Linked DNA regions of Homo sapiens: region 1 is linked to region 2. Evidence: fine-mapped expression QTL. A gene starts in region 2. The other region holds a variant in brackets. All regions are shown on one strand. Distances are from middle to middle. Region 1 overlaps LINC01102 (long intergenic non-protein coding RNA 1102). Region 2 holds the start of LINC01102 (long intergenic non-protein coding RNA 1102).

Evidence for each region.
Region 1: its variant is fine-mapped to the expression of LINC01102 in putamen (GTEx, PIP above 0.99). The same link has a PIP of 0.9 or more in caudate.

What each region holds. Positions count from the first base shown.
Region 1 is chr2:104,504,083-104,509,467 of GRCh38, forward strand. It overlaps LINC01102 (long intergenic non-protein coding RNA 1102), which reads left to right. Exons shown (of 4, transcript NR_015399.1): 2 at 1,784-2,221; 3 at 3,150-3,324. It overlaps LINC01103 (long intergenic non-protein coding RNA 1103), which reads right to left. Exons shown (of 6, transcript NR_110113.1): 2 at 786-1,106. Among named protein-coding and RNA genes, the nearest start is that of LINC01103, 3.7 kb to the right of the region's middle. The variant A/G (reference allele first, on the strand shown) is at 2,007.
Region 2 is chr2:104,432,350-104,437,734 of GRCh38, forward strand. LINC01102 (long intergenic non-protein coding RNA 1102) reads left to right here and starts at 1,998. Exons shown (of 4, transcript NR_015399.1): 1 at 1,998-2,174.

The sequences.
Region 1 (5,385 bases), 72 kb after region 2:
ATTCTGTACTTCGGCTCTGCTCTCCTTAAATGATGCTGAATCTCTGCAAGCTCATCTTGGACACGTCATAATAAAAAAAAATCTGCTTAAAAGACATTTAAATGTGCTCTGAAAATAAGTTCTGTGGGTTCTTTAAACTTTCCATCTTAATATCTAGACTATTCAAAGTGAGTCTTCAAAACTATGCCACTTATGAAGATCCACACAGCTTAGTAAGCTATTGCATCGAGTTTTGTAAAGGAATATTTTCGTCATAAATTTGTTCTTGTCTTAAAAAGAGAAAGCCAAGGCAAATTTTAAAGCAGCATTTTGACTTTAATGAAAAATTGATTGGCTAAAACAGATGTCAGACTGAAACTACAAAGAGCCCAGGCATTATGCAGGTATCAGTTGCTTTGTTAAGAATGGCTGACAGTGAGGAGACTTTGGCTAATGTGTTCTTATTCCCTTTAAACCCTGCCAATGCTCCAGAGCATTTATTTACCTTGGAGTTTCCTCCCTCTTTCAGGGCAGGAAGAAAGATCTTCATTTAGAATATATTAATAAATACAAGTCAGCTTAAAGGGGCAACAGTGTGAGCCCGGTTTTTAATATTTCCTTAGATATAACCCTTTCTAACCAGGCAGCTCACAGAGCCAATGAGCTAAGAAGGTAATTACTTAAGTGGATTTCATGAAGAGTAGAAAGATGATTGTGCCACATTAAATAACAATTGTGTCCTTAATGATGTGTTGGGCTATAATGCAAACATCCCTCCACCATCACAGGCAGGCGCTCCAGCGTACCTTTCTAATGACTCCGGTGGCTCCCGTCCCCCTGCCAGGACGTGGGGCTTTCAGAGCCTATGTAAACACTAAGTGAGCTGGTATATTTTTTTAAACTGCAGTGCCTGCAGCTGCGTGGTCATTGATAAATTGGCTATGAATTGCTGAAATACTTCATATGAATATAAACATTGTTGTAGTTTTGCAGCTTTAAGAAAAACAGAAATGTACTTGACTTGAGAGAGAAGTCTGCAGTTCCAGAGTACAGCCTTCCAGAAAGTTCCTTCTTTGTTGTGTGTGAAGGATCTATTTTCACAAAATCCAGCGAGGTGGACTCAAAAACTGTGAGGGGGTGGGAATGCGGTAGAGAAAATTCATTATTTTAAAAACTTAAAGATTGAATAAAATGTAAGTTAGCGTTTAAGTATCTATCTTAAATAGAAGCAGGAAATAATATTACAGCATATTAGATTTTATTGCTTCAGAATGTGTAGTATTCTGAATGTCCATGTCCACTTGACTTTGTGTAGAAACATTAAAGAAAGGCCACCATAATAAATATATCCAACACCTGAGTTAGGATTCACATTAGCTGCCACCTAACCTTAGAGGAAGAATTTTCACAGTGATGTAAACTTGAGAGATGAAAAGGATAATTAGTCCATGACTATAAATTTTCCTGTCTGCCCTTGGATGTTGTTATAATGACTATTTCCCCCATAGCCCACATTGGTATCTCTTTGTGGACATGCATGCTGAATCTCTAGTCATTTACTCTCTGATGTTAACATTAACAAATTTGAATTTGAGAGACATGATACAAATAAAATGCACAGTCCAAATGTTGAGAAAGTACTTTACACTAAATCCTAGCCAGTTCTTTAGTATTGTACCCATTTCAGAGAACAGAGAAATAAGATACCTAAAATTGGAAAACTCTTACGAATCTTGACTGTAACCTATATTGTGGGAATTGAAATGAACAGATCTCTTACCACTTTTTTGTTTGTTTTATTTAGGGAATGAAGACATTTGGAGAAGAAGCGTTTACTGAAAGGAGATTCCTGGGCTGGAGGAAAACCATGATCTACAGTTCATGTTGACAGATATTGTATTTTTGGTCCTAGATCTGACTTTTGAAATGACTTATCACAAATTCAAATTTAGCAATCATGAGTGAAGTACCCACGATGTGCTAAGCATCTACCTCTGCAGATAGAAGAACACTTACTGTTCCTGAGC[A/G]TGGGAGGGAATAGAAGTTCCTGGGTCCTGGCCTCACCTCATCAGGCACTGCCAAATTTGACACCTCCTTCCTGTTCACGGCAGTCCTTTGCGATAGGGTATTAGATGCCACCAAGTAGCTGCATAACTCACCCATTTGGTCAGAGCCTGGGTCTAAGCCAGGTCTGACAGACTCCAAAGCAAGCCCTGTTTACAGCATGACTGGGATCCAGTGGGTAAGACCAACCTGTCAATGCCCAAGTGCAGATGCAATAATAGTGCTTCAACTGATTGTTGCAAACCCCTCATGAGGGATGCCAAATCCCAGTGCAGATGGTAACACAGGCTATTTTTCACCTCCAACCTCTAATATCCTTTCTTTCTTTCTTTCCTTTTTTTTTTTTTTTTTTTTTTTTTGAGATAGAGTCTCCTCTGTCACCCAGGCTGGAGTGCAACAGCACGATCCCAGCTCACTGCAACCTCCACCTCCTGAGTTCAAGCGTTTCTCTCGCCTCAGCCTCCCGAGTAGCTGGGATTACAGGCACCCGCCATCATGTCCAGCTAATTTTTGTATATTTGTAGAGACGGGGTTTCACCATGTTGGCCAGACTGGTCTTGAACTCCTGACCTCAGGTGATCTGCCCGCCTCAGCCTCCCAAAGTGCTAGGATTACAAGTGTGAGCCACCACGCCCGGCCCCAATATTCTTTCTTACTAGACACTGTGTAAGCTAATTATTCAGCAAGTATTTTGCACTGAACTCTAAATAGGTAAGTATTTTGTGTCCATTTTACAGACAAGAGAAATAAAATAGGTAAAGTATTTCCCCAAAGCTATGATAAATGAATCCCATAGCTAGAAATGGCAGAAAACCCATGGAAACTTCTATGGGGAGTGGATGTCTGCCTTACCTTGGCACAATGCTTGGTTCTCAGATATCATTTCAGTGACATTGCCAAATGGGAGAAACCATGTCTGGTACACGGGACTCAAGCTGCCTCAAAATATCCTGAATGCATTTTTTCAGGGGAGAAAATCCATTTGAATAAGAATAGCTAGTTATAGCTTATTATGTGCCAGACACTATTCAAAGTGTTTAATGTGTATTAACTTCTCAAAACCACTCTATAAGTTAGGTACTATGATTTCCATCTCCATTTTACAGACGAGGGAACTGAGCTGTCAAAACTAAGTGACTTGATTGAGGCCATGCAGCTGGCGAGGGGAGGACCAGGATCTGAACCCAACTGGGTCTCCCAAGCCTGGGCCACTGAACCATTTCACCTCTTGGAAAAACTTAATGGTCAGAGTGGCCCACCCAGTCCATGGACAGCATGGAGGTAATGAACTTTAATCAGAAACTTATTGTGCATTGACTGAGCATTTATTCTTTTAAGACAATATGTTTGGATGTCTTTGGTTGTACAGAATTCAAATTATTAATAATGTTCACAAAAGTTGCCCTGTATTTTTATGCTGAAATACAACAAAATGTCAACTTGGTTCCAGTGACCTTTATACCGTACATATTATGTTTATTGTAGTTCTGTATTGTAGCTAAATTTATTATCTAACTTGTTGATGCCAATAAGCTGATGCATATGAAAGGTACCTGCAAAAAAATTATCATATCAAAACACTTCAGAAGAAGCCATAAAAGTATTATGATAAAATATCAGAGGAAGATATAAAATTGGGGGGAGGTGAAGTTATACTTTGCAGCATTTGCTCACGATATTTGAGAGAGTAAACTTTTCTGTCTTTTAAATGATTTCTGAATTTCTCTAACAGTGCTGCTCTGTTTTCTCGGTCAACCTTGCTGGATAGCCCAGTTTTCCTTTGCAGTCTGCAGAGCATGTGGCAGGACTATAGGCCTGTTTTATCTCTTTCTCACATAGCCCTCTGACCAAGAATCTGCGGAGGTCATCCCTCACCTCCAGAGTTGGTCTTGTCCCTAGCACCCACGTGTGCTCTGTGGCTCAGAATGGTCTACAGGATCTTCCAAATCCAAGCACAGGGTAAAGGTTTGCAGTTTATATTTTTAATTTTTAGTACATGTTTACTGAGCTACCGAAGTGTGCCCAGCACTGTGCACACGCTGATCCCTCCATGGAGCATGGTTGGAAATTCCCAGAGCAGCCCCTTTCTCTGAACACAGTGTGACACAACTCGCTGGCTGTTAGCCCCCGCAAGCCAAACGTGACGAAGGCACCTTCAAGACTCTAACAAGAGCCCTGGGCTCCCATTGCATACATGACATCAAAGGCATTTTCTTTTTCTTTTTCTTTTTTTTTTTTTTTTTTTTTGAGAAAGAGTCTTGCTGTGTCGTCCAGGCTGGAGTGCAGTGGCACAATCTCAGCTTACTGCAACCTCCGCCTCCCAGGTTGAAGCGATTCTCCTGCCTCAGCCTCCCTAGTAGCTGGGACTACAGGCACATGCCACCATGCCTGGCTAATTTTTTGTATTTTTAGTAGAGAGGGGGTTTCACCGTGTTAGCCAGGATGGTCTCGATCTCCTGACCTCTTGATCCGCCCGCCTTGGCCTCCAAAAGTGCTGGGATTACAGGAACGAGCCACCACGACCGGCCTATTTTCTTACACAATAGTTCTACTGGGGCTCCCCAGGCTGCAGACACAGAACCTGAGCTTATGGGGCAGGAGACTGAGTGAGGATACCTATGGGGACCCACATGGAGGAAGGGATGGGAACAAGGCAGGACTGGGAGGGAGAAGCCGGACTCAACAGAGTCCAGCTGACCTTGGGGAGCTCTGAAGATAAAAGCCCTTCAATGTGGTCTCCAGTTGAGGCAAGGGGGTCAGGTCTTTATTCCCCTACACTAACCAAAGGCTAATACAGAATTCCTTAGGAAGAGGCATGACCTTGGGCTAGGCTGCTCTCTCCAGCCAGGGACATTTTTGGAAGAGGCTGGCAGCTGATCTGCTACCGCCATGCCCAGCAGCTGATGGAAGGAGTGTTTTGAGTCCTAACGAGATGTGGAGAGCCCAACGCAATATCCACTAAACTCTCCATGTCTTATCTTAAACCTAGAATCGTGTGCCATCTATATTATTAAAATAGAAAGCAAAGAAATCCAGAGAATTAGCAACTCTCAAAAAAGACAGGATCTCAGAGGTACCCAAGGTTAGTGTCCCCGAACGTAGATACTACTCCTACAATGCCCTAGCAGTGAATCATCTCTTTGTACACCTTGAGAGACAGCAGCTCACCACTGGGAACCTCTAGTTGTGATGTGGTTTTTACTTATATCTTCTAGGTGGAAATTGCACTTTGATAACAGTAACTGTATTGACAAATTACGGTCGGTGTATTGAAACTGGAAAAGAGTTAGTATGGTTGTGCAAAATAATTTGGACCTAGGACTGAAATAATGGAGCAGATAT
Region 2 (5,385 bases):
TCGTGTTTGGTGGTGGAGGGAAGATCTTAATTACTAACCCTACGCATTTCTCTTTTTTTCTTTCTTTCTTTTTTTTTTTTTTTCTGGTTTTGCTTTTGGCTGTCAGCTAAGTAGAGGAAGGTAAGAGTCTTTGTTTGAATTAGAGTGCCAAAAGACGGAATAAAGATGAAACAGTGTTTCAGTATGCAGCCTGAGCTTTCAGCTGATTCTCGTAGCCCTGATCCTACCATATCCAGTACTAGTGGCACAGGACCGCTTCACATTCTATGATTGCCTGAGGAATAAATTAATGAGGTTACTGAGACACTGAACATTTGCATATTCACGGATGCTTATTAGGTAGAAAGTGAAAGCCAGGTGCACTGAATTTGGGGGATAGAGAATTTGTTAAGAAGTCACATCTTTCCGTCCTCCAGAAAAGGGGTGTCCTGTCACTAAAAATAATAGGCAGGCAAAACTCCTGCTTAGTGAATATCTGAACAATTATGATATAATGGAAAGATAAGGCAAAAGAGGGTCTTGCTTGAAAGCAACAGAGAAACCAAGGCACTGCCCTTGTTATAAGGAGACCTGGACGTGGTGGTTCTGGAGCATAAAGGAGGCACATGTTATTTGCTGTCTTTGGATTTTATGCTTTAATTATGCTGGTGGTGTACACAGCTGAACATGATGCCTTTGTACCTAATGCAAAATTACCAATTTAAGAAGACCTTTACATTTGTAAATATTATTATTGACAGGCCACCCATCCAAACTGGAACGGGGAAAAGCTTTTCTAAGAAAATGGTGTCGAAACCTGAATCACAGAATTAGGCTTGACTGTCTCTCTAAGGGACATCAGTACATGGTTCTGCTGTTGGTGATTTCTGCTGGGGCTGTGTGTGGAAGCACATTGTTTGAGCTATTTGTATCTCATTATTGTGAGAAGTTTTTATGCTGCTCTGGGTCATGGCTTGGAGACTGCCTCCTCAGAGCTTAAATGGGCAGATTTCATATTCTTCCCATCCTTGGGAATACTTCATAAAACAGAATTACAAGAGTCCATGTTTTTTTCGGAGCACCGTGCAGTGGGAGAGCCTGTCTTGCCTTTTTTTTTTTTTTTTTTTTTTGCTGTCGTTTTATACAGGTATTTTTTTTTCTTTCTATTTCTTTTTTCTTTTACTTTTTATTTCCTCTTTAAAGAAAATGATTGGCAGCACTCAACCTCAAGGAACTGATCTATCAAAACCAAGCTGGGATAAGTATTTCTTTGAGAAATAATATATATTTACCAACAGGCTCTATTCTGCCCCCTTGTTTCACAGCACCTTGAATATCACTTCCTTTTCCTGCCCAAAGCAGGAGGTAACCCTGTATTAAAAGCATAGTAGGTGTGTGTGTGTACAATACACACATACAGCACACATGTCTCTATTTAGAGATTCCATGATATGTGTTCTATATACACTTTACAGTCCCTTTTCTTAATGTCAAAAATATAATTTCCAGCGTCTAAAGAGTGTTTTCAAAGACTTTTGCCCTATTTTTTAAAATAGTGTCTAAATATGATTAAGTGTCTTCCCAGAGAAAAGTCAAAGAGGCTCCTAGTGTTAATTTCCATATTGCTTAAGACTTAAGCTTTTAATTTATTTTATCAAGGTTGAGGGAGTATAGTAATTGTTGGAACAACGCCCTTCCAAAAGAAATCGCCTGCACTTGTTTTTAAGTTCAATTTGTTTTCTCACACAGATTTTTGATACACTCTTAAATAAACTAGAAATCACAATTATTTTAATGTGGCAGAGTTGTAACCAGGAAATTGCATATATTTTCATAAACTAGGCTGTTATAGATTTATTAATATTTATTAATAACATTATTTTAAGAAATTTTTTTAACGTCTTTCAACCCTGAAAGGGCCTGCTTGAAACATACACGGCAGCAAAATCACTGGAGTCCAGGGTTTTTGTCACACACACACACAGCACAGATTTTTTTGATTATGTAGATTTCTTTTCCTACTGCAGTTTCATATGCAAAGCATGCATCAGCCACATCCATGCTATCTCCTAAAGCAGTCATTCTGAAACCCAATCTGGGGACAGTGCAGACTAAATAAAATTTCATTTTGATTTGGCCTCCCGCTGCGAATGGGACTGCTTTGTCTCAGCCGACAGAACCAGCAAGCCAGAAAGGTATGTCCTGTTTTGCATGGCTGATGGTGTGTCTTGCGGCTCACAATCAGGCCGCCTTGCTCCCGGCTCCTCCACTTCCTGCTTCTCTTTCTCTTTCCCCTTCCATTTGCTCCCGTGCTGCCTGCCTTCTACCTGCAGGGCACAGCCGTGGCAAACCCGCACCGATTGTTTACTTTGGCATATGCTTAATGGCGCGCGTGGCTGTTTGCTTTTTTTTTTTTTTTCACTGTCTTTGTTGGTGGTGGCTTTTCTTTTTTCTGTTTTGGTTTTTGTTTTGCTTAGCTTTCCTCGCCCACATTGGCTTTCCCTGTTTCTCAAGGTGTGGAATACTAAAATACTGACTGAAAGGAAAATTGTATAGGCGCTGCTGTGACGCTCCAGAGATTTTACTGGAAGATTTGTCATGCTGATTTTATTGTAAATTTGAAGATGCATTTAACAGCTTTGAAGGACCTTAGCTTCTGTGGCCCTTTGAGCCGCTTTGGCAGAAAAGCAATCGCCCATTTTAGAGAAGGGGGGGAAATAGAGAATAAAGACTCTCCTCCAATGGGACTGAACTGTTTTGCCATCTTAGTATGTTTTATAAAATGCATTGTGGTGTTTTCCTGAAGAGCTGCTAAATATGGCTCTGCTTTAAACAATGACCTTCATTGGGAGTCATCTCATGAGAGACTGGGTTGTGTCAAATGCTCTTCTTACACTTGTCCCACCTTTAGGAGAATGTACTAGCAATCAGGGACAACCTGCTGTGATGTTCTCAGAAGAAGCTTTAGATAAGATGGCGAAGCACCAGGGGACTGACAGTGGTGGGAGCTCAGTTTTCAAGCCCAAATTTCTCCTTGAAATTGTCATTGCCCTTGACCAATTCATAGGGTGCTATAAAGGAAAGAAGTTTTTTCCCTGGCTCACATATTGGCATATCATTAATCTAAATTAAATTACAGCAAACTGGTAAAAGTGGAGATAGAGTAAACGACAAATAAATTGCTTAAGAGAGGAGCAGAAAGGAAAGTTCACTCTGACTCTGGGGTTCTGCCTAAGTAATTCCACATAGGATATAGATTAAAAGATGAAAAGTACCAATTAGCTTCATAGGGACCTCACCCCACTCATCCAGAACAAAAACAAAATAAGTCACAACATGTAACTTTGTAGAGGGTCAAAAATTAACTTTTGTCAATCCATAATGTTGTAGCCATTCCAGAGTTTTGAGGGGAGTGGTGCTCCAGGGGTACTTCCAGATGCCATTTCTGAAATGTAATGGCTGAGGTCTTTGCCGTTACAATAAATTATCCTTTCACCACAAAATCTCTCAGTTCACTATTTTGCACCTGTTAGCTAAGCGCTTTGGGAGAGAAGAGTCACCAAGACCTTTAGTGATTTGTTGATAGACTCCCTACTTATTACATACAACAGATTGAAGAACAAAATGAAAGTTAGTTAAAGAAGACGTTGAAGAAACAATAGTGTGAAAACAGCACGAAATGTCATTTGGTAAATATGCCACAGCCTCACATAAGGAAGAGGAAAATGGCAGTGTGGGCCATGATTGGCAGGTCTGGATCCATAGACTGTGATTTCCAGGATCACCCAACAGTAAGTCTTTTTGCTGTAGCCTTACCATCAGGGCCACTTTCTTGTTTCATAGCTATTGATGATATTGAAAAGCCCAAATTTGCTTTTTGTGCAATTTGTCAGTGCTTTTATAGGATCCATGTGTTGGAATTTTAGGGACTTCTTTAGGTAACTAAGCGAATGTTTTAAGAAGTAAATTCTGCTATGCTGCTACACCGGCTGTCTTAAATACAATTATTTAGCAAGAATAAAGTACTTTTTAAGAAAATTCAAATGCAAACACTAGTTTTGGAACACAAGGTGCTCAAAGAAGATTTATTTATCAATAAAAAAGGTATAGGCATATATGCTTACAGTATGTGTGTGTATATGTGTATAAATATATACACATAGATCTAATACATCTAACATATTCATATACAGAGACTGAACCAATGATGCTGTTAAACAGTCACAAAGCTTATCTTGAAGATTAAAATCAATAAATATATCAACAAATATAGCTAGCAAAGTTCTAAACTATAGTTTGATTTATCATATCATACATGTAATACCATGTATAGTTTGATTTATCATATCATACATGTAATATACACCAAAGGTTTATGTTAAGTGATATAATATTTTTATTAATTGATGGGTTCCTCTTGAACTCCATCTATAGGAGGCAAATTATTATAGTACAATTTAAGCTATCATGTGATTTGGGAAGATGGACTCCACAATGCCTTAGCATAGGTCTGTATATCTCTGCTTTTGGTGTCTGTTATGCCTAATGCAGGTCGTCTTCCAAGTTTCAGTCCATATGTTCCAAACACATGATAGCTCAATGCATCTGCAAGCACAACACATAATAACCTGATAGAAATACTGAAGATAAAGACTGTCATGGTGACTCCTGGCATGTGAGTTTAGTTTCTATGCCTTTTGTTTGCTAATATTGTGATGACCATAATCTGATCTTACGTATTTCATTAGCTGAACCCCTCTCCAAGTAAGAGAAACAACACTAGCTGGAGTGAAATGTAAATTGTGGCGAGAGACAGAGAATTCAGTTTTCTATCCACCCTTCTACCCTACCCTGTCTTGGAAACAGTGAGGGTGCTCAAGTATTCTCTGTGGAGGGAATGAACGAGCGTGTGAATATTGCTGTTGGAGCACATAGAAGAGCGGGAGGCGCTTGTACCAGCAGGAGCCTGGCTCCACATCACCTAGCTCTTAGTACTCATGAAGGGAGGAAAGAGATTTGAGAGACACCAATTCTCACTTTTAGGCCCATATAAACTCCCCAGGCCTGTGGACCCAGTGAAAATGTATGTGCGTTTTTCAAAGGAAATAACTTACATGACGCAGGCAAACTGGGCTGAATAGACACCCCCCAAATGTTAAGGATTTATGAGTTCTAAGCAGGTCAGATCCAGCCACGGAAGAGTCATGAGTGGCAGAGGAAAGAGAATCATAACATTCTCTGGAAAGGTCAGTATGGAAAAAAAAAAAGAACTCTATGTATTTACATGTATTTGTTTATTTATACTCTGTAACTACTTTCTGATTACAAAGAACACATACCATATGGAAAGACTAAACAGAAGCAGCATTTTAAAAAAGTCAGTTATGTGGAAAATTCATTTTTGAC